Homo sapiens: one gene and its partners. The protein of the gene in region 7 purifies or fractionates together with the protein of the main gene of each other region. This does not show direct contact. Each region holds a gene or a part of one and is shown on either strand. Other genes may lie near its edges. The genes, in order: TSSK4, ITIH4, DSC2, NOVA2, NEURL1, WDR13 and BRWD3.

The links.
Region 1: the proteins of BRWD3 (region 7) and TSSK4 purify together in Homo sapiens (affinity purification with mass spectrometry, with the first as the bait; one large-scale study listed by BioGRID). This does not show direct contact.
Region 2: the proteins of BRWD3 (region 7) and ITIH4 purify together in Homo sapiens (affinity purification with mass spectrometry, with the first as the bait; one large-scale study listed by BioGRID). This does not show direct contact.
Region 3: the proteins of BRWD3 (region 7) and DSC2 purify together in Homo sapiens (affinity purification with mass spectrometry, with the first as the bait; one large-scale study listed by BioGRID). This does not show direct contact.
Region 4: the proteins of BRWD3 (region 7) and NOVA2 purify together in Homo sapiens (affinity purification with mass spectrometry, with the first as the bait; one large-scale study listed by BioGRID). This does not show direct contact.
Region 5: the proteins of BRWD3 (region 7) and NEURL1 purify together in Homo sapiens (affinity purification with mass spectrometry, with the first as the bait; one large-scale study listed by BioGRID). This does not show direct contact.
Region 6: the proteins of BRWD3 (region 7) and WDR13 purify together in Homo sapiens (affinity purification with mass spectrometry, with the first as the bait; one large-scale study listed by BioGRID). This does not show direct contact.

The regions. Positions count from the first base shown.
Region 1 is NC_000014.9:24,204,527-24,208,495, reverse strand, and holds TSSK4 (testis-specific serine/threonine-protein kinase 4), read right to left. Parts: upstream 2,801-3,969; 5' UTR 2,573-2,800; coding exon 2,348-2,572; intron 1,988-2,347; coding exon 1,773-1,987; intron 1,381-1,772; coding exon 987-1,380; intron 605-986; coding exon of another isoform or gene 533-604; coding exon 350-532; 3' UTR 248-349; downstream 1-247. UniProt on the Homo sapiens protein: Serine/threonine kinase which is involved in male germ cell development and in mature sperm function. May be involved in the Cre/Creb signaling pathway. Phosphorylates CREB1 on 'Ser-133' in vitro and can stimulate Cre/Creb pathway in cells.
Region 2 is NC_000003.12:52,824,173-52,827,672, forward strand, and holds part of ITIH4 (inter-alpha-trypsin inhibitor heavy chain H4 isoform 1 precursor), read right to left. Parts: intron 3,026-3,500; coding exon 2,921-3,025; intron 2,782-2,920; coding exon 2,619-2,781; intron 2,480-2,618; coding exon 2,369-2,479; intron 1,843-2,368; coding exon 1,714-1,842; intron 1,143-1,713; exon of another isoform or gene 1,033-1,142; intron 787-1,032; coding exon 670-786; intron 394-669; coding exon 225-393; intron 166-224; exon of another isoform or gene 144-165; coding exon 18-143; exon of another isoform or gene 1-17. UniProt on the Homo sapiens protein: Type II acute-phase protein (APP) involved in inflammatory responses to trauma. May also play a role in liver development or regeneration.
Region 3 is NC_000018.10:31,088,922-31,092,421, forward strand, and holds part of DSC2 (desmocollin-2 isoform Dsc2a preproprotein), read right to left. Parts: intron 3,380-3,500; coding exon 3,180-3,379; intron 2,227-3,179; coding exon 2,107-2,226; intron 674-2,106; coding exon 518-673; intron 1-517. UniProt on the Homo sapiens protein: A component of desmosome cell-cell junctions which are required for positive regulation of cellular adhesion.
Region 4 is NC_000019.10:45,935,866-45,939,365, reverse strand, and holds part of NOVA2 (RNA-binding protein Nova-2), read left to right. Parts: 3' UTR 1-3,500. UniProt on the Homo sapiens protein: Functions to regulate alternative splicing in neurons by binding pre-mRNA in a sequence-specific manner to activate exon inclusion or exclusion. It binds specifically to the sequences 5'-YCAY-3' and regulates splicing in only a subset of regulated exons.
Region 5 is NC_000010.11:103,580,705-103,584,204, forward strand, and holds part of NEURL1 (E3 ubiquitin-protein ligase NEURL1), read left to right. Parts: exon of another isoform or gene 1-285; intron 286-1,734; exon of another isoform or gene 1,735-1,880; intron 1,881-2,007; exon of another isoform or gene 2,008-3,039; intron 3,040-3,500.
Region 6 is NC_000023.11:48,603,992-48,607,491, reverse strand, and holds part of WDR13 (WD repeat-containing protein 13), read right to left. Parts: intron 3,221-3,500; coding exon 3,102-3,220; intron 2,645-3,101; coding exon 2,460-2,644; 3' UTR 1-2,459.
Region 7 is NC_000023.11:80,807,078-80,811,036, forward strand, and holds the start of BRWD3 (bromodomain and WD repeat-containing protein 3), read right to left. Parts: upstream 2,801-3,959; 5' UTR 2,395-2,800; coding exon 2,364-2,394; intron 2,228-2,363; coding exon 2,169-2,227; exon of another isoform or gene 1,966-2,168; coding exon 1,936-1,965; exon of another isoform or gene 1,731-1,935; intron 1,522-1,730; coding exon 1,462-1,521; intron 1-1,461. UniProt on the Homo sapiens protein: Plays a role in the regulation of cell morphology and cytoskeletal organization. Required in the control of cell shape.

The DNA of each region.
Region 1 (3,969 bases), on a different chromosome or scaffold from region 7:
ACTTGAGCATTTAAACAGCACAAAGATGTAAAATAATGAGCATATGTTGAGTTGAATAATAAAGCTTCCCAAAATAGAGCGTTAATCTGAGCACCCCATCCCCTAAGAGCCACATCATGAATTACACTATTGATTTAACACAGTGTCAAGATTATTGGTTACAGGCTCTGGGCAGAAATCTATCTCTTACTCCAGCAGTGTTCCCTGCTATAAGATTGCCTTGAGAAAAGAATGTCTTTGACCCTAGTTGATGAAACTAAATCAGACTTAGATTTATTTTTGGTAAAAAAGATTTTTAGCCCAAGACCTCCTGCTTTGCTCCTCTCTTAGCCCCCTCCCTCAGCCATTTTCAGGTCGTAATTTGCAAGGATTGGTGCTGTTTAGTGGTGTTGTGGAGCTGGCACATGGCCTCAAGCAGCCTGATCTCATGGGTGGGTTGCTCAGGCTGGAACTTGAGCACCCAGGAATCCTTGATGATGTCCAGAATGGTGGCACGCTTAGTGGCTTGGCGTAGCATCTGGAGGATCAGGTTCTAGAGCAGGGGAGAGAGAGGTCTTGCCTGAGTTTTTCTCCATTGTGCCACACAGGCAATGAGCAGTTGGACCTAAGAAAGAAGCAGGATAGCCCATCATACCACTCTGGTCAAAGTGGGTGTGGCTCTGATTTTATCTTGGAGACCCAGGCAGTTAACTCCCTGGAGGGGAAGGGAAGAGTTCCTTGGGAGGAATGCTTTCCATATTTCCCTTCTGGCCTAAAGAGAAAGAAGCTGGAACCTGTGTATCAGGCAAGGTTTGGAGCCTAGTGGTTGGCCCTTTATGCCTTCCATACTGTTTATTATAGGACAGGAGCTAGTGTGTGAGATGGCTCTGGTGTGGGAAGAGCCTTTCCCCAGGGTTGGGAGGCCTAGGTTGGGTGACCTAGGTTGGATATTCACCCCTCCCTGTGGGTCATCCCTGAAGGCTCAGCCCTCCTTAGGTAGCCAGTACCTTGCACTCCTGGGAGATGGTATGGTTAGCTGGGAAAGTGACCTCCTTCTGAGTCTCTCTTAGCAGCTTTTTGAGATTGGTGTCATCAAAGGGCAGATGGGCGACCACTAGAGTGTAAAGGATGACGCCCATGCTCCAGGTGTCAGACAGGAAAGGGTTGTAGGGCAAGCCTCGTAAGATCTCTGGGCAAGCGTAAGCAAAGCTGCCACAGTAAGTCTGGCTGAGGTGGGAAAAGCAGTTCACTTGGCGGTAAGAAGGGCTACAACCCACAGGCTGGTTAGAAGGCACCATCTTGGCAAAGCCAAAGTCTGATATCTTCACATTCTCCCACTTGTCCAGCAACAGGTTCTCCAACTTTAAGTCCCTACCAGCAGCAGAAAGGCTGGGCATCAGGCTGGGGAGAGGGCTTAGTTTTAGACTGGGAGCTGAAGGGCCAGGGGTCAGAGGGTAAAGATGAGGACAGAGGAAGTGGGAGGTAGAAACCATTATGAGGGCACAAGGTAGAGAGGAAGGAAAGCCATGGAGTTGTGAGCAGAGCCCAAAGTAGGGAGAGAGACAGAGGATGGTATCTGAGGACCACCGGGAGCTCACCATTGTATTTCATAAAATGCTTTGCATACAGTGAGTACTTTATCAGTATCCTTGACCATATGATTAAAATAGAGTGCATGAATAGGCTAGATATTGAGGAGGGAGTTCGAAAGAGGAAAAAAGGACAGGAAATGGGAGATGTGCATAAAACCCCCTTGAGGGCAAAGGCCCCAGTCTGGGTGGCAGCGCCCTCACCGGTGCACGATGCTCTTGCTGTGCAGGTAGGCAATGCCCAGGGTCAGCTGGGAGAACCACTTGCCAGCAAGGGGCTCAGAGCAGGCCCCGTAGCGCTGGATCCATTCAAGGACATCACCACCCTGAGCCAGTTCCAGAATGATGTATACTCGAGATGTGCTCTCAATGGCCCGATAGAAGTTGATGAGGTACTTGTGCCGCAAGACTTTCATTACCTGACCCCAGAAGAAGGACCCATCAAACCTGGGAAGGGAGAACCCTGACTGCACTCCCAGCCGTCTCCTACCCTCAGCTACTGACTTAGGACTTTGCAATAGGATCAGCCCCTCAACCCCAGAGAACTGGTGGCCTGTGGGCAAATGCTATGTTTTGTGCCTTTACTTTTTGGGGACTGAAGGTGAGTGGGTGGATGGGAAAGAGGTTTAACTTACATAAAGTTTCCTAGCTGCTTAGTGAGACATTTCAGTTCTGGTTTAGGGGTTTCTGGCCCCACCCCTCCTGGCCATACCCCTTCTGAGAAACCTCAAGCAGCTTAGTACCAAGCTCCAGTTCCCTCTTCCAGCCCCCTTTCCAACCTGTATTTCACGGGGCAGGAACTTGTTAAGATAGTCATCAGAGGCCTTCTTCTTTGAGATGATCTTGACTGCCACCATAACCTTCTGCTTTGTGTAGAAAGCCTCATATACCGACCCATAGGAGCCATGGCCAATGGCCTTGCCCACCTCATAACCATATTCATCCATGAGGGAATGGTAGGCTGTGGTGGTTGGTGCTGCCTCTAAGACATCTCCCTTCCCCATGGTGTTGGGCTTGCTGAGAGCAGGGAGCTTTACTACTTGGAAGCCTCCTATCCAAAGGCCAACACCTTGAGCTGCTGAAGGCTAGGGTATCAAAGTGAAGTAGGTCCCCAAATGCTTGCCTATATAGTCACACGAGTCTGGGATGCTGGACTCAGCCCTCCACTAGGAACTTGGAGGGGGAAAGAAAGAGAAGCAGTTCTTTTTGTCTCCACTGGCTGTTGTTACTTTCTCCTTTTGGTTACGGAACTCCTCAAGGTCCCATGTTCCGAATACATCACAATCCACCTCCTATCCATCGTTGGCCACAAAACTTGAGAATGAAGTGCGGCCGGGCGCGGTGGCTCACGCCTGTAATCCCAGCACTTTGGGAGGCCGAGGCGGGCGGATCACGAGGTCAGGAGATCGAGACCATCCCGGCTAAAACGGTGAAACCCCGTCTCTACTAAAAATACAAAAAATTAGCCGGGCGTAGTGGCGGGCGCCTGTAGTCCCAGCTACTTGGGAGGCTGAGGCAGGAGAATGGCGTGAACCTGGGAGGCAGAGCTTGCAGTGAGCCGAGATTGCGCCACTGCACTCCAGCCTGGGCGACAGAGCGAGACTCCGTCTCAAAAAAAAAAAAAAAAAAAAAGAGAATGAAGTGCAGTTGGAAACGTACTCATTCCCAGAGGCACCTTCCACAGTCTGGTGAAACTCCTAAAGATCAGACCTTTCATTGATATATGAGTACCTACTAAGTACCAGACACTGTGCTGAATACTTGGATAAAATGTCACCCAAATGTCATGCCAGACCCTTCCTCCTTCCTCAATCCCTACATACAATCTTTCATCAAATCCTGTCTCTGCTATCTCCTACTTATCTCTTTAATGATACACTCAAGGCTTTCCGAGCCCATTGCAGCCCCCTTAGTTCAATAAGGCCAATAGAGACACTATGATCCTAAAGCTTATAATGCAGCATGAGAAATACGAGTGTGAAAGTATTACCATTGTAAGGTATTGAACATGTTCTAGGAAAATCTAACCTTGAAATGCATCCTTATCTTCTATGAGCCAGAACTCTCTAGTTTTCCTCCACATCCTTCTGGTCACTCCTCAGCCTTCACTGAAGTTATATCTTTCTCTATCCATCCCTTAATCATATCCCAAGTGTTACATCACAAGCTTTATTTTCTCAAACCTTCACATCCTCCCTTAATCTTGTCCATACCCATGGTGTCAATACTACATTTATGCTGACTGCTCCTAATTTCATCTCCATCCCATATATCTGGAGTTTAGATAGAGCAGCCAGTATTACGTGGCCATGTCTGCCCCAGGCATGGAACTTACCATATCCATCTCAAACTTAACCATATCAATAATTGAACTTATTTTCTTCTCTCAGACTTTTCTGTG
Region 2 (3,500 bases), on a different chromosome or scaffold from region 7:
ACGGGCAGGGCCCTCACCCACAGTGGGGTCGCCATCGGTGAGCAGGATGATGAGTGAGACACTCCCTTCGGGCAGCCGCTCCTCCTGGTTGCTGCTGTCCAGCAACTGCACAGCCATCAGCATTGCATCATTGATGTTGGTCCCTGAGGAACACGCACTCTCAAGGTGGTCCCCAGCCAGGAGCCCTGGAAGCCCCCACCCTGCAGGGCCACAGAGACACTTACCTCCCAGGGCCTGGATGCCCGCAGCAAAGCTCCTGGCCTTGTTCACGTTCTCGGCTGAGGCTGGCACCAGTGATGGCCTCCACTGAGTTGCTTCTGTACTGAAGACGATGAGGTTGAACTGGTCTCTGGGGCTGAGGTCATCCAGGATCTTGATTAGGGCTTCCCGGGTCTGGTCAGGGAGAGGAAACATAGGTGCTTCAGAAGGGCTCCCTGAGGGCTCGTGTGCCCTAGGGCTGGCATCCTTGGACTCCTGTCTCAGGGGTGAGGTCATGGTATCTGCTCTAGGAACAGGGGCTGCCCTAGGCTCTGGCCAACCTTGGTTCCTGAGAGCCACCCGCCCCATGGTGCCGAAAGGTGAAGCAAGGGGGTCTGCCTGCCGGACCACAGCTGATAGCGTGAAGGGCCTGGGAGTTTTCAGGGCCCTGCCCTGGGCCACAGGACCTACCTGCTGGATTTTCCTGCCACTCATGGAGCCGCTCTTGTCAATGACAAAGACCACATTCTTGGGCATTGTGGTTAGGCCCTCGGGGGCAAAGTAGTGTACAAAGTAGCCGTTCTCGATCTGTGGCCAGAGTGAGACCCACCCAGGCCATCAGAGCTACAATTGGCCCTATCCCCATTCAGCCCCTTTACCCCAAATTCTGGGTTTCTGTGCTCTGTTCCAATCCCATTTCCATCCCACTGCTAACCTCCCCAAAACCTTGCCCTTTTTCAGGGCTCAGACCAGCCCCTTTCTTGCGGAAGCCTTCCCTGCTCATGCATAGCCCACCAGAACTCTCCCTGCAACTTTTCCTTCTATTTGTTTTAGTATTTCAGATGGTTTATACTAAAAAGTTCAGACATCATAAACCTGACAACCATCAAAAGAGGGAAGACTTCAAAAACATGGAGTAAAAGGGAAGTATAATAACAATGGCAGAAATGGCTGGGTGTGGTGAATCACGCCTGTAATTCCAGCACTTTGGGAGGCTTAGGTGGGAGGATCACTTGAGCCCAGGAATTCAAGACCAGCCTGGGCAACCTTGTCTCTACTGGAAAAAAAAAAAAAAAAATTAGCCAGGTGTGGTGGTGCACGCCTGTAGTCCCAGCTACTAGGGAGGCCGAGGCAGGAGTTTCTTTTGAACCTGGGAGTTTGACGGTGCAGTGAGCCATGATCATACCAAAATATAACAACAATAATAATGCCAGAAACTAGTGTGAAAGAAACTACTGCAAATCTGCATAAAACTGAGTTGTGAGCCTCCCAGCAGCAGAGGCAAAGAGGGAAACCCCACAGGGCAGCTCTTCTCAGAGACAAACCTTTTCTGCCTGGGAAAGGGAATAGTTTCAGGGACAACACAACTAAATCACGTGTTTTCTGTCTGTGCCGGTCCCTGGTGCACACTGCTAAGTAAGGGTGGTTCTTTTCCTGTTCTAAAATACCCAAGCTCAGGCCCTTGGGGGTGGACAGACTTCTAGGCTGCTCTGCTCTTGCCTGAAGTCCACCCACCTGAATGGAGCCCCCGGAGATGGCCCGGTCCACATCATAGCGGATAATGAGGTTGCCGTCCAGGACTGTTTCTTGCTGCTCTGGGGACTTTTGCTGCTGGGAAAGTGTTGGCTTGAACCGGATGTGAGCCTGGAGGAATAATCCGGGCTGAAGTTGGGAGGAACAGCAAAGCCAGGCCAACAACACCCTCTACCCCTGTCTGTATATTGGGAAATCAGAATTCCAGGATGCAGCCTTGGGTCCGTATTCCAGGGCACTTTCTTTCAGGCTGAGTTATTGATGGACCACTTTCACGTAGGGGAGGGGTGTGATGAGCTCCCTGTTCCTGGAGCTGCGCAAGCAGAGGCTATTCCAGGATGTGTGCCATCCAACCATCTCCTTCTCTCCACCTGGCCCCAGGACCCTCACATCAGTCTATTATCCAGCCCCTTCCCAGACAGATCTCAGGGCTCATACGAGGACGCCATGGTCCTTCTCTAGGCTTTGCCCTCCCCATCTGCCAAATGACAGCAAGGATGCAGAGATCTCAGGAGCCTCTCCAGGTCACAGCTCACAGGAGGGAGAGCCCATCCTGCTTTCCAGAAATCCGGGCTCATAGGGCTGGCCTGAAGGCAGGGCCCTTGGTACCCTCACCTGCTGACCACAACAGGCCCACCTTGGTCTTATTCTGCCAGGTGGTGAGGGCGTCTACCAGCTGGTTGGTCATGAAGGTGCTCTCTGTCTCCAGAAAGCTGATGCCCTGGGGCTCGAAGATGTGAATGTCCATCTGGAGGCAAGATGTGGGTCCCTGGGTCAGCCAGGAGCCTGGGCTGGGGCTCACAGGAGGCTCAGGGACAAAGAGGGGCCGCCCTCAGCAGGGCAAGGGTCATGCAGGAGGCCTCCCTGGAAGAGGTAGCAGCAGGTACCTGCAGGTGCTTGACCAGCTGCTGGGGCCGCACTTTCAGCAGCAGCTCGTACACCCCCAAACGCCGCTTGAGCAGCTCCTCATAGACCAGCTCAAAGGTGATCTTGGCATTGGGAGCCACACTGACCGACACCTGGAACTGCTCCATGTTTCTCCCGGTGGCCCTGGGGGAGAAGGGCATCAGGCCTGCTCCTCCAGGACAGGTGGGGTAAGGCTGGTAGAGGTGGGAGCAGGACTAAGGGCCAAAGGCAAGGTGGCCTTTGTCTAGACCCTCCCCACTGAAGCTGCCCCCCACCAGCTCACTTGACGAGGCCAGCGCTCTTTCCCTTGGCCACTGCTGCGCTGTACTGTGCCTGGGCTTCAGCCTTCTCCTTGATGATCCCTGGGTAGGTCATGCCATCGATGATCCTGGGGGCAGAAGGGTGGGAGTTGTTGAGAGCCTGGTGGCAGGGGCCCATTCCACTCCTGCCTCCTCCAGAGAGCCTTTCTGGACTCGGTGTGCCTCTTGACACAGTGACTCCCATCTTTGCCTGAGCCCAGTGCCATTTATTATGCACCTACCGCATACAGGACCCTGTGCAGGGCACTCTGCAAAGTGCTCCAGGCCTCTAGCTCCCGGAGGTGTGTACAGTAACAGTAAGCATTCATTTTATAGAAGGGACGAAGGGGAGGCTGCAGAGGGGCAGGGCCGGGCTAAATCCTGCCTTCTCTCCACCTGTCCAGTCTGGCCGAAGCTGGCCCACATTCCCACCTGCCCCTTCCATTTCACGGACTGTTCCAGGGGAACTAGTTCATCACCAGCAAGAGCTCTCTGAGTCACACTTGTTCCCAGCCCTGCGTGCAGCCGTGTGGGGCCAGGACTGAGGAGGAAGCAGACGTAGGG
Region 3 (3,500 bases), on a different chromosome or scaffold from region 7:
GGGAGGCCGACATGGGCAGATCACCTGAGGTCAAGAGCTTGAGACCAGCCTGGCCAACATGGTGAAACCCCATCTCTACTAAAAATACAAAAAATTAGCTGGGTATCATGGTGCGTGCCTGTGATCCCAGCTACTCAGGAGGCTAAGGTGGGAGGATCACTTGAACCCCGGAGCCAGAGATTGCAGTGAGCCGAGATTACGCCACTGCACTTCAGCCTGGGTGGCAAAGTGAGATGCTGTCTCAAAAAAAAAAAAAAAAAAACTGTTCTTCAAAGTGGTACTGTTGTGGGGGAAAAAAAAATAGTAAAACCATAATACCAGGAACAATCTAATGGAATCCAATATTATTTATTCTATGAAAATATTTTTTGTTTCAAGTCAATTATGTGCTATTAGGGAGTAGCCAGAGCATTGGTGACAAACTCAGAAAGCAGAAAAGGTTACGTGAATTGCAAATGAGAGACAAAATGGCCAAGCATCATCATTGCTAATACAGTACACACATTTTAGACTTTACCTCAAAAGATTCATACTGCTCACGATCTACAGGACGAGTACAATACAAGTTTCCAGTGTCTCTCTCCACATAAAATAAATTCCGAGGTTCTTGGTCAACTCCAGGACCTCTTATGGAATAGTATATGGTATAGTTTTGGGCCGTGTCAGATTGAACCTAGAAAGTAGATATTATATACATGAGACAAATCTTTATTTCAGCAGAGCTTTCATCTATATATTTATGAAATCTCATTGCCATTTTATTAGTTTAAATAATTGCCCTTAATTTATTATTATATATAAATTAAAACAGCAATAGAATAAGAAAGTCCAATTGAGAAATTTCAAGAGCAAGGCATGAGTAAAATAATGTAGTGCATCTTAGTTCTCCAGAATAACTAAAGGAATATTTGACAGGCTAGATGGTGTCTATACATGGAAAAAACACTTAAGACTCTTCCTGTCTTAGAAAACAAAGTATTCTGAGCATGGAAAATTATTCTGTCGTCAATGTTTTAAAAAACTGAGTTTTTATTATATGTAACATAACATTTAAGAACCGAGTTTAAAGTGTACTGTCTGCAGGGCAAAAATGTGGACAATAATTTCCTTAATGAGTTTTTTGTTCTTTGCCAACATCTTCCTTATAGGAACTGAGTAAAAAAAAAAATATGAGTGAGAATAGAAATGGAATAATATTTTGGAATGTGTAATATTCTGATCCTTGATTCGAAAAGCAAATTTCCTCCAAGCTGTGTTCATCCTCTCAGTAACATCCTATCTTTATATCAGGATAACTGACACAACTGTTTTCTAACAATTTCTCAACTTTAATATGCTCTTCTCTCAGCTGTATTAAATTTGTTGGTGGGGTATAAAAAGGATTCTCCCTTGCTATGTCAAGAACTGAGGGAAAATAAACCAAAGTCATAGACTGAATGTAGTAGCCACCAGTAATGGAAGAAGGCAAGAAGGCTTGCTGGGGTTTCTACTGAAAGTTAAAACAAGACAGAGAAAAAGAGCCAGGTATGCTTGGCTCATGCCTGTAATCCCAGCATTTTGGGAGGTTGAGATGGGAGATCATTTCAGCCTAGGAGTTCAAAACCAGCCTAAGCAACATAGTGAGATCTCATCGCTACAAAAAAAAAGAAACAAAAAGAGACAGAGACAGAGAGAGAGAGAAAGAAATGTGGATCCAGTGTGATTTCAGATGTAGATTCAAGAACAAGAAATAGAAAGATAGAAGGGCCTATGTGTCTTCCTCCTTCGTGGCATTTGGTCTTTCATCCAATTTTCTCCTTTATTATGCAAGAGAGTTTTGGGTTTTCTAGCTATTCTTAGGCTTGGCGATACCCTTGCTGATGTGACAATTCATTAAGGAACCATGTGTCTGAGTGCCACAGTTTTATGCTTGGCCTTTGCAAGCTGAACAAAAGTGTATGCAAGTATAAAGAGATATATTTATACCCTTATATGGAAACATATTATACACATACTCATTCACTCACATATTTATACACAACTATTACAAATAACTTCATACTCAGTGTCATAATGGTAAGAGATGGAAACTATAGACTCCCACAGCAGAAAGAAAGAAAACGGTACCTGTTGAAGGAAAAGTGGAAAAGGACCCAAGGAGTTTTCTAGCATCGAACAAGGAATTGGAGCCCATCTTCTCTTGGCGCGCCTTAGAACTTTTTCTTTAGTATGTCTTTTCTTTAGGACCTCAATTCATAAGACAGGAAAAAATAATAAAGTCAATGACTACTTTATTCTCAAACATTAAACAATGACACATCTTTCTCCTCTCAGGAGGATTAGCTGGGTAGGGGTGAGACCATGGGAGTGCTTGAAAACCAAACTAATCATCAACACTGCAAAAAGATAATGAAGAAGTAACTGTCCTAACTGTTATCACAACAATCCTCTTGGGAAAATGATTTGGTGGAAATATGGAAGAAAGAGAGATGGAACTGGAAGCCTAGAAGCAAAACTGAAAAAAAAATTACTGTTGCCCCATTGCCATGCAAAAACATGGGAGAGAGATATGCAAAGAAAATAAGTGTGTATGTGCCCTTCTAAATTTAGCACAAGCAACTTCCACTCACCAGCAACTAGGCAGAGCCAGGGAACCAACAGAGAGATCTGTGTCAGAATGAGGAGAGAAACACGGTGACAACTCTCAAACTGCTGCAGTGAGGAATGGCTAATGGTTGAATACAAGTTATTTTGATCTTGGGTGTCACAACACAATAGCATGCATGTGGTCCAAACCTCCTCCTAAAATAGTTATCTATGTTTTAAGACCACAGATTATGCTAAAATGAATGCGAGAAAAAAGCTTTCCTTTCTTTATACAGAGTTTCAAAACTTGTTGTTAGAAATCCATTCTACGGTAAAGCTCAAAAAAAAAATGCTGCTTTGTGTCTAATCTCACTTTCCCATGCTGTACCTTATCCCAATTTCTCCTTTTACGTCCCAAATGAAAAGGAATGACAACCCGAATGAACCATGTGACACAGCCCTTTTCCTTCTAAACACTGTGAAGTTGCCTCATGGTTTTCATTCGTCTTTAAGCCAAACTATACCATATCCTTTCTGATTTCATATCTTCCCTGGTAATGTTGATTACGTCTGAAGAAAAGATATCATTTCTTCATTTATGTAGCCTTGTATACCTTTGTTTGATGCTCCAAAAAGACAAATATTTTCTTCTTTTCTTGGTTCTCAGTGTTGGAAAGTAATATGGTAAAACTTCTCTTCTCCGAGGACAATAGAATAGTATTTGTTGTATAGACTGAACCATCCTCCAAAATTTGGAAGTCAGGATCACTTGAATGAATTAGATTTGCAGCTGTAAAGCACTCTTTCAGGTTAACTGTAGAAAATATGCACAGCAATCATTTTTAAAGTAAAACATAGGATATAGTTTTAACAGTAATGTATGCACGTGGGGAGAGCCAAAAACTTAAAATTCATTATACTGACACTTGTAAATT
Region 4 (3,500 bases), on a different chromosome or scaffold from region 7:
CTTTCAGTTCTAGATCTGAGGGAAGCCATGGGAGTAGAGGTAGCAGAGGCGTCTGAGCTGAAATGGGGCATTTGGAGCAAGGACCCCAGAGTTCCCAGATCTTCTCAGCTACTCTCCTCCCACTGGAGCTGTCCCTCCTAGGTGGGAATGTTCACTCTTTTGTTGTCAGGTTGTATGGGGGGGCAGGGACAGTGCTGCTGGGAAGGATGCCAGCTCTGGGATTGGGCCAGTCCTGTGGGCAAGACTTGCAAGAGGCTGGATCAACTTGGTGTGGTATCTCTGATGGCTTAGAGTAATGGCAATGAGGGTCTCTGTTGTGATGTCACTGAGTACTTTCTGGGGTGCTTCTGGGCACCCCTTATGATGTCACAGGAAGCAGTTCCTCAGAGGTTACTTCCTGTGAACATAAGGGAGCAGGTACTTCCTGTGATGTCTCAATGAGTTCTTCCTTGAAGGTCACTTTGGTGATATCATGGGAAGGTGTACTTCCGGTGATGCCTAGAGGTCACGTCCTGTGATGTCATTAGGCTGAAGCATGTACTTCCTGTATTGGACAGTGACCAGTCTCTGACCTGCCTTCTCCCTCCACACCCTTCTTTGGTGGGTGTTGGCCTGGGGGTCTTCCTAGGAAGAGAATAAGGCACGGGACTTGGATCCAATCTGGAGGACTCTAACGGAAAAAAACCAATATTGTCAGGGTCATCTCCATTCAAACACGTCAAGTCTGCGAACTCGCCCTGGAGGGAGGGGTGGGAGATGGACCTAGTGCAAACTACTGTTAAAGACCTCCCTTCCCACCCCTGCCTTTTGTGTGCATGCCTGTGTCTGCGTGGCTTTGTTTCATTGAATCGGGTGAGCCAAGTGTGTGGTGGCTCTGTCAGGCCAGTATGGCCAGGTGTAGAGTTCAGTGAGCCATAGTAGGGTCCCTTGGGCCAGAATGCTTCGTGTGGTCTGATAGGTTAGATTGGTTTGGTGGCTTCCAGCAAGCTGGCATACTTCGGTGATGTCTGATGGATCAGAATGTTTTGGTGTGCTCACCAGGGGCTCTGGAGAACTAGAATGTTCTGATGGAGTCTGACAAGCCAGGCGGCCTTGAGAGTTGGTTTAGGAGTGGCTCCCTGAGTGCTGTGGCTGTGGTCAGCTCTAAGGACCTGTTGGCAGACTGAGATTTCAGGGCCTGACAACCATGTAGACTAGGATAGCTGAGACCTCCCTCTACCCCCACCCATCTCCCTCTCTTCCTTGGAGACCACCTCCACTTTCTCCAACCCAAAGCAGGGCGCCCAGTGCCCTGGTTCCATCATCAGCATCTCTGGGGGAGGGGCGCCCCATGCCCACCCTCTCCCCCATTTGTCCGCCTCCTAGGTCTTCCAAACCCTTTTCTTCTCTATGACTTTGGGGGAAATCCAGCCTCCTTGTCTCTCTCCTAAAAAAGGAGGGAAGAAAAGCCACAGAGACAATTCCTGCCCCTAAAGCCTAGGAGATCCCTCTCCCTTGCTAGAGAGCCACCCCCAAATCAAAATGTGAAAATCCCTAGAAAGCAATAGCCTTCGAGGTACCTTGCACTGAATTTCCCACCCCAGCCCTTCCACCCGATGGGAGGCTGTAACTTGGGCACTGGGGTGACTTTTTCCATGCCCTTGTCATCTCCAGGGTGGGAGGCAGGCCCCACTTCCCCTCCCCTATCCCCCACTTCCCATTGTTGTTGCCCCACCCCTAATCTCCAGACTGAACCCAGATGGAGATCTGAGTGCCAAAACAATTCTTGATGTAACTTTGTACATATCTTCTACTACCGTTGGGGGCTCTTGGGGTTAGAGGTGGGGGCGGCTCTGTGGGCCATTGCTCCCCTCCACCTCTCAAAAGACCTTACAGTATTTCACAGTATCTCTACCCGCACGCGAGTATTACAGTATCTAGCTGGAATATCCCCCTACAGCCCCCCAGGACCCTATGAGGAAGGGAAGGAGCCAGGGAGAGTGAAGTAAGGTCTGGGACTGGGGAGGTGGGATCTGAATGAACTCATTTGCATATCATTTGCATCCTCCGCTTGGCAGCCGCTTTCTACAAACTCATTCACTGGAGTCTGGGTCCCAATCAGCCGGGTCCAGGACTCCTCTCACACAGACACATCTCCGGAGGCTGGGCCTCCTGAAAAGTGTTTGCTTGGGGTGTCTGTGTAACAACCCCTCCCTATTCATATTTCTTGGGGACCCCCTACCCAGCCAGCCAGGGTGATCTGAAAGGTATACTTTGCTAGCTCAGTGAGCTAGTTCACTCACCATGTTGGTGAGCAGAGAGCCACACCTTTCCCCATTTTACCTTGGGAAACTCACTCCACCATCTTTGCCATCTCTTGAAAGTCCCTTCTGCAATCTGACCTCAATCTTTTGTGCTGCAGTTTGTCCAGAGGGGACACAGATGTGGGGTCAGGGATGAGGATTATTGAAAAACCCATCATCTCTTTTTTTTTCCCCGTCTCCCTATTAGCCAATCCGATCTCAGAGTCTCTGAGTGGCCTCCTTGCACCCTTCTCTTCAGCACCCAGTAGGTGCTTAATAAGTGTTTGCTGCATTGGATTATCTCCCTATTCCTTCTCATTTGCCCTCTAGCTTCCCATACCTTCTCCAAGTGTCTTCCTCCCTTTCTTTGTCTGGCTCCCTATGACTTTCTATTTTTTTTTCCTCCGTGTGGTTCCCATTGTTTTCTGTCCTGTCTCTATCTTAGTCTTTGTCTGTCTTCCTCCTTTCCTCAAATGTCTCAACTCTCTCTCCCCAATTTCCCCATTTAAAAAAAAAAAAAAGTGCCAAACTTCCTTGGAACTGAGCCGCTCTGGGGGGAGAGGACCTTGGATAGAGGGGAGGAAATGGGACCATTTCTCTTTGAGGAGGTCCCTAAGAGGCATTGCAAAAGTGTGGACATGGAGCTAAATTGGGTCCCCCTTCCACAGCCCTCCCACCCTGAGTTTTTCTTAGAATCTTTGTAAGAAAAAAAAAAAAAGACAGAAAAAAGCTCTCCTTTTCAACTTACCCCTATCCTTTTGGGTCCCCCCAAATTCCACCAGCCAAGGAGAATCCCACTTGCCAACTTCCTGGCAAATCTATGGAAACTGGGGAGGAGGAGACAAGCTCAACTCCTCCTCTGCTAGCCCAAGGGGCGGTACCAACTGGATTCAAGAGAAGGACCTCAAAGCTCCTATGAGAAGAGGGGGTTCGATGTGCCAAATTAACCTCCTTCATCCCCCATCTCAGGGGGCTCTGAGCCAACCTGCCCAGCCACCTTCTTCTGCCCTGTCCCAGCCACCTCTACATGGGCAAGGAGGCTTCACTGCAATAATTAGTAGGGGTGGTGATCAGAAGACAATGATTTTGCCGTTTCTATCTGCCCTAACGCCTACCCTGGACTTGTAGTTGGGAATTATGGGTATCCCAAGTGGATGTTGATAAAAGCCGACCTATAGATGGTTGGGGACCTCTACTTGGAACACCAGGGTGTCGCTT
Region 5 (3,500 bases), on a different chromosome or scaffold from region 7:
GAGAGGGAGAGAAGACAGACTTGGGCTGGGCACTGGCCCTAGGGATTCGTTCCGTTTTTAGCTGTTTCCCAGCAGCTTTTGTCCCTCCCCTCCCAACTCTAGCAAGATTTCAAGCAAGGCTAAAGGGATCCTCTTCCTACCCCCTTCTCTTTGTACATCCTCCACTGTTTCTCCTTTCTTTCTTCTTTATCCTCTCACCTCTACATTTTAGCTGCTGCTTCTTGGTCTTTGGTGATTTCATTCAATGAGTATTTCCTGGGTACCCATCATGACTGATGTGAAATCCTGCATTAAGGTTCAAAAAGCCCATGGTCTGAGGACAGGTGTACCTGACTTTTAGTTGAGACTGTGCTCAAGCCAAGCAAATACTAATATCTGAAGTTATCGGGTAGCTTCTGGGTGCTGGGGGTGGTCCCACTTTACCTCGGATCTTTCCAACAACAACTCAGGGCAGGTATTATTACCCCTATTCTCTAGGTGAGAAATTTGAGGCTGGGAGGAAGGTTGCTTACCCAAAAGCCACCAGCCAAGTGCTGGATCAGACATTTAAACCTAGGCCTGATCCAGACCTGGATCACCCCAAAGCCCATGCACTTTCTTCTGAATCATGTGGCATTTCACATGCCAATAACAACGGCTTATATTAACCTAATGACTGTGCCAGGTCTCCTATTAGGTGCCCTGTGTACCTTACTCCTTTTCATCCTCACAGCGTCTCTTCTAAGGGGAGTATTAGATACAGATTTTATGTAAATCAGTAGATGCTGATTTCACTGCTGAAGAGGCCCCAAGAAGTTCAGCTATTTGTCCAGTCATATAGCCCTGTCATACAGGAAATGGCAGGGCCAGGATTTGAACCTAGACTGATGACTTCAAATTCATTGCACTTAACTGTGCTCCTGTCCTGCCTACTAGTATATGAATGTTGGTTACTGAAAAAAACCTAATGTACTTTTAGGTTGCATTATTAGAAGTATAGCATATATACCAAGGGAGGTGATGGCCACACTATGCCTTGAGCTGGTTGGTGCACATCTAGAGTACTGAGTCTGGTTTTGTTCATTATCTAAGAGGTGGGAAGGTGTGTGGGGACTCTGAGTATTCCCTGAGAATTGTCTTCAGTACTGGGCTGATAGGCAGCTCAGGAGGTAGTGGGTTAAATACAGGGAGGTAGATTTTGGTTTAAAAGAAGGAAATACTCTTTAAAGACAGATTAACTCCACAATGGAACAGGTTGCCTGGAAGTTAGTGAGCACCTGGTAGTGTGCATGTTTAAGTAGAAGGGGACTCCTGAAGGGGCAGAGAGACCAGGATAGCTTGCATCCAGCCCCATTAAGAGCTCTGTTCTGAGGGTCTGCCCAGCCCCAGGAGCTCTGGACTGATTGTCCTGAGGGGGTGGTGTGGGCCCTGTGACAGCTGTGTTCCTGGAGGCTCTGGCTGGACATCTCTGAGCGACCTGATTCCTCTTCTCCCTGCTGTTACTGCCCCTTCCCCTCTCTGTCTCCCACCCTCTGAAGTTCCCAAGGGTCAGTGCCTGGAATCCCAGAGGGGTGAGGGAGCAGGGACTGTTCCCCAGGGTCCAGGTCAGCCCACTGGCTTTCCCCCACTCTGCACCATTTGTCTCTCCTACCTCCCCCCTGCACAGGCCCTCCTGGCCTCTGCCTCTGCCTCTCTGCAGCCCCCCAGCCTCTATGCACCATCACTGTCACAGAGTCAATTCCCTGGAATAATCACATTTTCTGGCCGGCTCCCTCCTCCTCGCCAACACGATTCCAGGAAACCCCAATCAGCCAGGCCCCAGGAGGCTTCTCCAGAGCTTCAGGAGGCTTGGGGGGAAGGGCCCACACCCAGAGCTTTCTGGGGGCCAGACAACACAGTTCCTGGAAGGGGCAGTGAAAGGGTGAAAGAAAAGAGGGAGGTTTAGTGACCATGTCTACATTCAGTTGGAACTGAATTTTGGCCTCTGCTGTCCCTACCAGACCAATCCCCCAAGCTTTGCTGTCATACCTGAGAACCCCAGCCATCCTTAACCCAGTTCCTGAAGAGACAGCACAGATTCTCCCTTGGAGAGGTTCAGGGAGAAGGCCCAAAGGAAGGGATCGGTCCATGGTGCGGCTTACAGTGGCACCAGGCATATTTGGAGAGATTGACTCACGCAGAAAGGCTTCAATAAACAAGGAGAGTCTGGAAGTGAAGAATGCGGCATTAGGAGTTGGACAGACCTTTTTTTCAATCCTGGATCTGCCACATGGCGGCTGTCATAACGCCGCTGAGCTTTATCTGTAAAACGGGAACACTTCCACGGGCTGCCGTAAGGATGAATTGCAGGGGTAATTCATGGAACATGGTGATCACTTTTATTGAAAGTTATAGGACTCCATAAAGCAGAACATAACACAGCCATTAGAAGAATATGGTGTTGGAAACAGTTATTGGCACGGAGAGGTGTTCAGATGCTGGGGATAAGATGGAAGGAGCCCAGGAGTTAAATTTTTGAAAATTTTGAAAAAAGCTACCAGGGTTCTTAGCCTGGAGTCCTTGCCCATGAATGGCTTCATGTAGTTCATGAATGCCGAGAAATTATCTACAGAATTTAGTGAGAATGTTCATTTTTCTGGGGAAAAGGGTCAATGTCATCACATTTTCAAAGTGATGTAGTACATATAAAAGGTAAAAAACAAGTGATGTTTATATAGCATGACTCAATTTTTGCACTAAAAAAAGTAACCAGCTGGGTGTGGTGGCTCACACTTCTAATCGTAGCACTTTGGGAGACTGAGGCAGGAGGATCGCTTGAGCCTAGGAGTTGGAGACCAGATGGGCAACATGGCGAAATACCGTCTCTACCCCAAAAATACAAAAATTAGCTGGGCGCGGTGGTGCATCCCAGCTACTTGGGAGGCTGAGGTGAGGATGGCTTGAGCCTGGGAGGCGGAGGTTGCTGTAAGCTGAGATATCTCCACTGCACTCCAGCCTGGGCCACAGAGCAAGATCCTGTCTCAAAAAAAAAAAAAAAAAAAAAAAAAAAGCCAAACAAACAAAAAACCCAAAAATACAGCCTTTAAAAAGGCCAAAAGATCATACATCCAAATATTAAAAATGCTTTTCTCTGGGTGGTGGGCTTATAGGCGATTGTTTTTTCTTTTTGCTGAACTGAATTTTCTACAAAATACCGTTTTATATTTTGTATAACTTGTATGATTTAAAAAAGAACGATGAGTTTGATTCCCTGTTAAGCCACTTTCAAAAGGGTATCTTGGATAGATCTACTTCTCAGCCTGTGTCCTGACATGGCAATGGTAGCCTCAAAAGGTGATTGTTAAGGTTAGATGAGACAATGTACGCAAAGAGGGTGTCTGTGTGTTTGCTGGGGGGTGGTTGCTCCCTGGCTTTCCAGGATGTTAGGCCTTCGTCAGTGCACTCGACAGACGGTTACTGTTTGTCAACAGAATGCTTGGCGCTGTTCTAGCTGCTAGGGATAAGACGGAAGGAGCCCAGGA
Region 6 (3,500 bases), about 32 Mb from region 7:
GGAAGCTGAGGCCCGAGGATCGCTTGAACCCAGGAGGTGGAGGCTGCAGTGAGCCAAGATCATGCCACTGCATTCCAGCCTGGGCGTCAGAGCAAGACCCCCCCCCCCCCGCCAAAAAAAAACCAAAACAACAACAACAACAAAAAAAACCTCTGGGTGCTGAGTCTCTAATTGAGCTTCCTTGGTCAGCAACATTTCGCATGTATTGTCACAACCCATTACTGTGAACCGAGCACATCTTGTGTGACTCCAATGAGAGAGAAGCCCTGGAAACTTGTGCCTGGGTCTCTCTGGGAGTTGGTCCTGCACACCATTTCTTTTTGCTGATTTTGCTCCATATCTTTTTGTTGTAATAAGTCAATCGTAGCCATGAATACAACCACATACTGAGTCTTGGGAGTCCTCCTAGCAAATCACTGGGCTTGGGGCTGGTATTGAGGACCATGACACACACACACATACATGACCTTTACCATGGGAACAATCCAGCTCACTGATGTCCCTATCTCACCACCATGTACCCTGAGGTCTATTAGATGGAAGTGCCAGTTAGAAATGCTTGGGGTGCAAGTAACCACACTGTCAAATAACTGGACTGAACAAACGGGAGATTATTTCCCTCCAACAAGACTGTTGGTGCGAGTTCAGCAGCTCAGCAATGCTGGGCCAAGCTGGAGTCTCTACCACGCTGTGGACTGACCCTAAGGTCCCAAGATGTCAGTCGCAGTTCCAGTCAACGCATATGTGGCAACAAATGGAGCTGAGAAGGAAGGGAGGGGCCGGAGCAAGAGCCTCTTTGCTGCTTCAGGTAACTTTGACATTTTCTGGTGACGCAGGCCACTGATAAGTGATTTTGGTTATTTACCCCCATCAATACTCAAAGCTTTTTCTCCTCTCTTGGGGCTCCCCTCAAATACTTAACATCACTTTTTGGTCTCTGAGCTGTTCCAGGGCTGGAATTTGTACCCTGGATGGGGCTGGGAGGAGACAGGGGTGGTCTGAGGGATGGAGATTCCGCCACACAGCAGGAGGCCCCAGGTCAGCCTTAACTTCCCGTTGCTCCTGCACCAGCTTGGGGCTCCAGGACTCAACACCTCTGCTCCCTGCTTTTAATAAACAACACAATGCACAGAAGGGTTGGGAATATCGCCCCCTGAGGAGGCAGCAGAGTCCTGCAGCCTAACATAGTGAACCCCCTGGGGGTCCGACCCAACATTCCCCCGCCAACTCCTCCACTGTCACTACCCTGGTGCAAGTCCCCATCACTGCGCTCAGAGGGGTCTCCTGCTGGGTCCCCTGCTTCTACCCCCACCCCCAATCTGTCCCCTTCAGCAGCCAGAGGGAGCCTCTATGACCAAGTCAGATCATGTTCCTCCTCTGCTTGACACCTTCTGGTCACCCCCACTCAGAAAAAAAGCCAAAGTCCTAACTGTGGCCCATGAAGCATCTGGCCTGTCTGACCTCATGTACTGTCACACTCTGGTCCAGCAAGACTCTGGCATACACAATGATCCTTCTGGAGCGCTCCAGCCTCAGTGCCTTTAGGCTGGCTTTCTCTCTGCCTGGAATGTTCTCCCCCTACACTATGACTCCCACTCACTTCATTCAGGTCTTTAAATGTCACCCTGAGCCAGGCGTGGTGGTTCATGCCTGTAATCCCAGCACTTTGGGAGGCTGAGGCGAGTGGATCGCTTGAGCCCAGGAGTTCAAGACCAGCCTGAGCAACATGGCGAGACCCCGTCTCTACTAAAAATACAAAAATTACCCGAGTGTGGTGGCACACACCTGTAGTCCCAGCTACTTGGGAGGCTTAAGTGAGGATCACTTGAGCCCTGGAGGTTGAGGCTGCAGTGAGCTATGGTCATGCCACTGCATTCCAACCTGGGTGACAGAGTGAGACCCTGTCTCAAAAACAAAAAAGTCACCCTGTCAGGATCATCTTCCCTGATGCTGTCACCATAAAGAGCCCACTCCCCCAACTTCTGCAGCTCTGTCTCCCATCCTTGCTTTATTTTCTTCATACCACTCATCATTAGCTGGCCTGTTCCATGTTTTTATCTACTGTCTCCGCTATGATGCAAGCCCAATGAAGGCAGGCATTTCCATCAGTTTAGGTCAGAGCAGTATCCCCAGTGCCTAGAACAGTTCCTGGCACACGGTCAGGGCTCACTAATGTCTATCGAATGCATAAGTGTGTAAAACAGTTAAGGCAGGGCCTGTAACCCAGCAGACATTCAATCAATGCTTGTGGAATGAATGAATCCGTCGATGCATGAATGCACAAATGAGTCAATGAACCCCGTTCCACCGTGTTCCTGGAGCTGCCCGCTGCCCTCTGCCCTGTCCGTCCCCGGCAGAGCTGGGAGCCGGCCCTCAGCATGACCACCGAAACTTTATTTACAACACGAGGCTGGAGTAAGAGGGGTGGGATGGAGGACAGCAGCAGGGCCGACAGGACCCTACTTCTGCTCCCGCCTCCAGACGATGACCATGCCGCTGGCGTCACTGGAGGCCAGTAGGCTCTCGTCGCAGTTGAAGCTGACATCAAGCACAGGTGCACTGTGGCCCTGCAGCTTGTTGACAGCAGCCTTGGCCGCCCGCTCCACATCAAAGAAGTGCACGCACATGTCCTCACTGCCCGTCACTGTCGGGGTGAGAGGGAGAGGCCATCGGGAGGCGCCTGGGGTGCCCCTGGTGGGAAGTCCCTGAGGTGTCTGAGGTGTTGAAGGGTGTATGTCCGAGGTGTGAGGTCCTAGCATGGCTTGGGGAGGTTTGAGGGGGCCCCATCCCTAGATGGGAGGTCACCTGGCTGTTTTGGTACTGTGTGCAGAATGCGAGGTCTCTGGGCTGTTTGGGGAGTTAGTGCGTTCAAAGTGTGAGTTTTCATCACTTCTCGGCCTTTTGGCCGAGATCAAGTGCAAACTGTGAGTTCTCTGAGCTGTTTGGAGCTGTGAGTTCCACAGTGAGGCTGTTGGGGCAGGAGGGGTCATGAGGTCCAGGAAGTCAGGGCATCGGTGTCGTGATGTCTGAGCCAGGTTGGCACCAGCCCTGGTTCCTGCCCCTCCCCAGCCACCCAGATCCCCTGTCCCTACAGGACTCACCCACGCAGGCCCCCTGGCGGAAGGACATGAGGGGACAGAAGATGCTGCGCACAGGATGTGAGCTCTGCTCGATGGGGAAGCTTCTCTTCAGCTGCAGGGTCCCCTCGTTGTCTACCACCCTGAGAGGATGAGAGAGTGGGTCAAAACACAGCCCCAGCCCTAGCAGGGAGACAAGTTGTGGGCCTGTGTCCCCACCCCTGTGCCTAAGTTCTTTACAGGGTTCATGAAACCCATATTTTTTTTTTTGTTTTTGAGACAGGATCTCACTCTGTCACCCAGGCTGGAGTGTAGTGGTGCGATCACGGCTCACTGCAGCCTCAACCTCCTAGGCTCAAGTGATCCTCCCGCCTCAGTCTCCCGAGTAGCCGGGACTACCTATAGGCACACACCACACCCAGC
Region 7 (3,959 bases):
AAACCTGTATCAGTCATTAAGTGTTAAAACATATTAGTAGGCACTGTTGTTTTTGCCTCTTTTAGGGGGAGGGAAAGACTTAAGTCCAACAGAAAGACTGACTACAAATTAACCTGGCAGTACATGAAGTTTTTCAAAACTAATTTTTCTCCATCTGAGAAATTGTTACTATTAATAATACAGATGGTCGAGTTTACCCTTATCACAATTATACCATTTTCTGTGATTTGCAAAATATAAGAAAACTATACAGTCGGTAGACTTGATAATAATAATGTGGCCTCACTGTTGTAAGATAACACAAACAAAAATAACAAAATGAACATTGAAGCAATTTAAATATAGTCTTATTGCAAGCAAATTTTAAATCATTTATATTTAGAGTCTATCATACACCGCCAACTTTCTTTAACTTTGTCCGATTTTCCTCCACTTGGATCTTACTTGAAGGAAAGATAGCTGAATTTAGATTTTAGTAACATCATTCCTTTCTCCTTTCACTACCCTCCAATGCACTGTGGCAGCAGCTAACACAAGGGAACCTCCCCCGCAAAATAAAAAGGATCACCTGTTTTTGTGTGTCAATGCTGAACACAAGGTACATTTATACTATGAATTATATTTGCAGGAGAAACAACATAGACCAATGCCTTTGGTCCTTCACTAAAGTATATTCCATTTTTAAATATGTCCATTGTTGTCTCCTTGTAAACCCAAAATCGTGTTTCACCAATTCTCAAAAAGTGATAACTCAGTTTCTATTTAGTGAAAACGGGTCTATGCAAATGCGACTTAACTGATAATTGAATGAGCTTATAAAATCGGAGATACGTAACGATTATGCTTTTACTCAGTAGACCATTACCTAACCGGCAAAATTTGAAATTGGCTTGACGCTCCTTATTATTTTTAATTATGTCGTTTTTCCTAATCCCTGGTCCGTCAATTCCCCTCCAGAGCCCCTTCCTCCCACGCCTCCCCCCTGCCCCCCCGCCCCCCCCAAAAAAGACCAAGCCTGGCCTTAGTTCCCGTATTTCAGGCCAGGACCAACCAGAAACCAGTTTTCTTCCACTAATCCGGAACTCCGGGCTGTTACCAACGCTGTCATTGGCCAGCGTCAGACCTTAGTACGTGCCCCAAGATAACCCCTTGGTTTCTCTCCCTTTTCCGCCTACAATGGGCCTTCCCCAATGTTTGTAACATATTCATAATCCACAACACGGCACCTCTGATAATCAACTCACATTCTTCAAAGTTTTCGGGTGGAAACAAGCAGGGCCAAGGGGAGGGCAAGGTACCCTTTTTCCGACTAGCAGGGATGGGGGAAGGGGCAGTCGTTCTTTGGCTCTGCACCGAGCTCTAGAACCTCGTCGGCTGAGAGGTGGGGGGCGGGTTGGGGGTACAAGGTGGGGAGGGAGTGGTGAAAGAGTTAGGTTAAGTTGAAATGAAAACTTTACTCACCAGATCCTCGAAGCTTCTTCGGTGCTCTTTCCCCTCCCAATCTAAGCGGCGCGGAATCAGCTGGGGGCCGGACGAAAAGAAAGGGGGAAGCGGAGGCAAATGATGAAGGAAAAGCCTCCGCTCCCCATCAACTGGACCCAACCTGTGTCCCAGTCCTCAACACTTTACCGTCTTTATTTCTCTCGGCCTGATAGCTATTGGCTCAGAGCTAGACAAGTATATGGGGGGGGGGGGGAAGGGGGGTCGAGAAGGAAATCCTGAAAAACTGCCTCCCACAAGCATAAAGCGGGGACGAGTTAAGACCCCAGCGTTGTCTGCCCCTTTTGAGGGAAGAAGCCAATTCACCCCGGTGACAACAGCTACGGGTACCCAGATCGAAGCCTCTATCCCAGCCCGTCTTCCGCCCCTGACTTGCCCTCCCCTTCCTCCAGTCTCACCTCAACCCTCCCCACCCTTCCCGAAGGGGCTCCGTACCTGATGCTCCTCGAGCTCCTGCACTAGCACCTGAGCAAAAGGGAAACACAGATATGAGGAGCAGCTCGGGCCATCAACCCATTCCTCCCTCCACACTTAAAGCCCAGCCGCTGACCGTTTGACTAGTCAAGGCCGGCCTTTCCCTCACCCTCAACGGAACTGCTCGTCCCGCTGCCTCGATTTCCCCACTGGGACCATTCACCACGACTCCCAGATCTCTTTCTTCCCCTTACCTGAGCGGATTTGTTGCAGGGTCCAGACTGCAAGAACCTAGCGATCAGGTAATACAGCTCTGGGGAAGAGGGGGGAAAAGAGGTTCAGAGGGAGGTAGAGAAGAGAAATAGAAGCTTTTTCAAAAGAAACTGACAGCCTTCGCGCTAAGCCCCCATTCCCTTAGCACCCCCCCACCCCCCGACACAGCTACCCACCGGCTTCGATCTGGGTAGGTGCTGCCGCCATCCTTTTCCCGAGGGGGTTTGGGGGCTTCGCTCCGGAGGGGCTGGCGGGGGCGGGTGGGGGCGCTGCCTCTATTGTGGTGAAGCCCCCATGCCCGGGAGTCCCGCCGCTTCCGCCGCACTCCTCGTCCTAGTTTCGCTCTCTCTCGAATTCATCGCATCACGTTTCGACCCATAGATATTCTAGCCCAAGAGCTGAGGAGGCGGAGGAGGAAGGAGAGGAGAGGGAGAGGGAGAGAGAGAGTGAGTGAGTGAGAGAGAGAGAGAGAAGAGAGAGAGAGAGAGAGGAAAAAGAGAGAGAGAGAGAGAGAGAGAGAGAGAGAGAGAGAGAGAGAGACGCGGGGGGTGGGGGGGCGGAGAGAGAGAGAGAGAGAGAGATAGACGGAGCGAGAAGAGGGAGGAGCCGAAGTGGCGAAGAGGTGGGCGGGGGCAAAGGGGGTGGAGAGAGGGGAGGGTAAAAATGGTGATAGGGTTTTGCAGCGCTCATAGTTCCCCGCTAGAGGCACTAATACAGCAGCTGAGCCTAGACTCTCCCGGAGCCCGATGGTTGCTTAGCTACAGCTCTGGGAAGGAGGGGGAGGTGCTAACTGACGGCCGACGCTCTGGCAGCCGCCTTGGAACTCTGTGGTGGCATTCGCGTCTGCGAGCTCCGGAGTGACTTTCCCTTCCTGTGAAGGCAATCCGGCCCTTTCCGGTGGAGGACCCTTCCCCCTGGGTTGATCTTGAGGAACTTAAGAGACGGTGTTTTGACTCGACTCCTTTCCCCTTTTTCCTCCCGGTACCAAAGCGGTTTTGTTTGCTGTTTATACTCTACCCCGTGGAAAGGCGGCTAGCTGGCTAAAGGGTTTTATGCCTGGGGGAGGATGAGTCGCTATTTGGTCGTGACTTGTTTCTGTTTAAAATTATTATTATTTACCAAATGAAAATGTTGTACTTACCAGTCCAAAGTGCGGGGCTTATATTGTTAGAAGACCACTTAAAATGCTCCTGGATTCTGACAAATATTGCATGAGAAATTTGCAATCAGCCGTGAAGCATGTTTCCCCTTCTGAAAGTTTAACACGTGCCGTATCTACGGCTGGGATCTAACACATCCCATTCCTACAGGGTAATTTCCTATTGTGTTTTCAAATACTACTAAAGTACTTTAACCAAGAGTTTTCAATAATCTTTATGTATTATTGCCTATCTCTATGCAAGGTATCAATAGTTTTCTACAGGTTCGGGACTACACTGTTTAATATATAACCCCAACCCTTGGTACCGCACTGACCTTCAGTATTTGGTTGCTGAAATCTTCAATGATGAAAGGGGTTGGTATGATAATTGACACAGATTAGTAAACCGGGTCCTTTTCTTCCCTACTTTCCCGTAACATCCTGTCCCCACCCCACTCCCTCACCTAAACCTGATGAGACCAGAAATGCATTTTAAGTTGCATGTATTATTTACATTGAAATATTACAATTTGAAGGTTCATCTAAATTTAAGGCTATATTCTTGGGAATTGGGTTTCCTCACTCAGCTCTGCCACTGACCACAGTGGGCCTTGAATTTCTAAGTTGACAT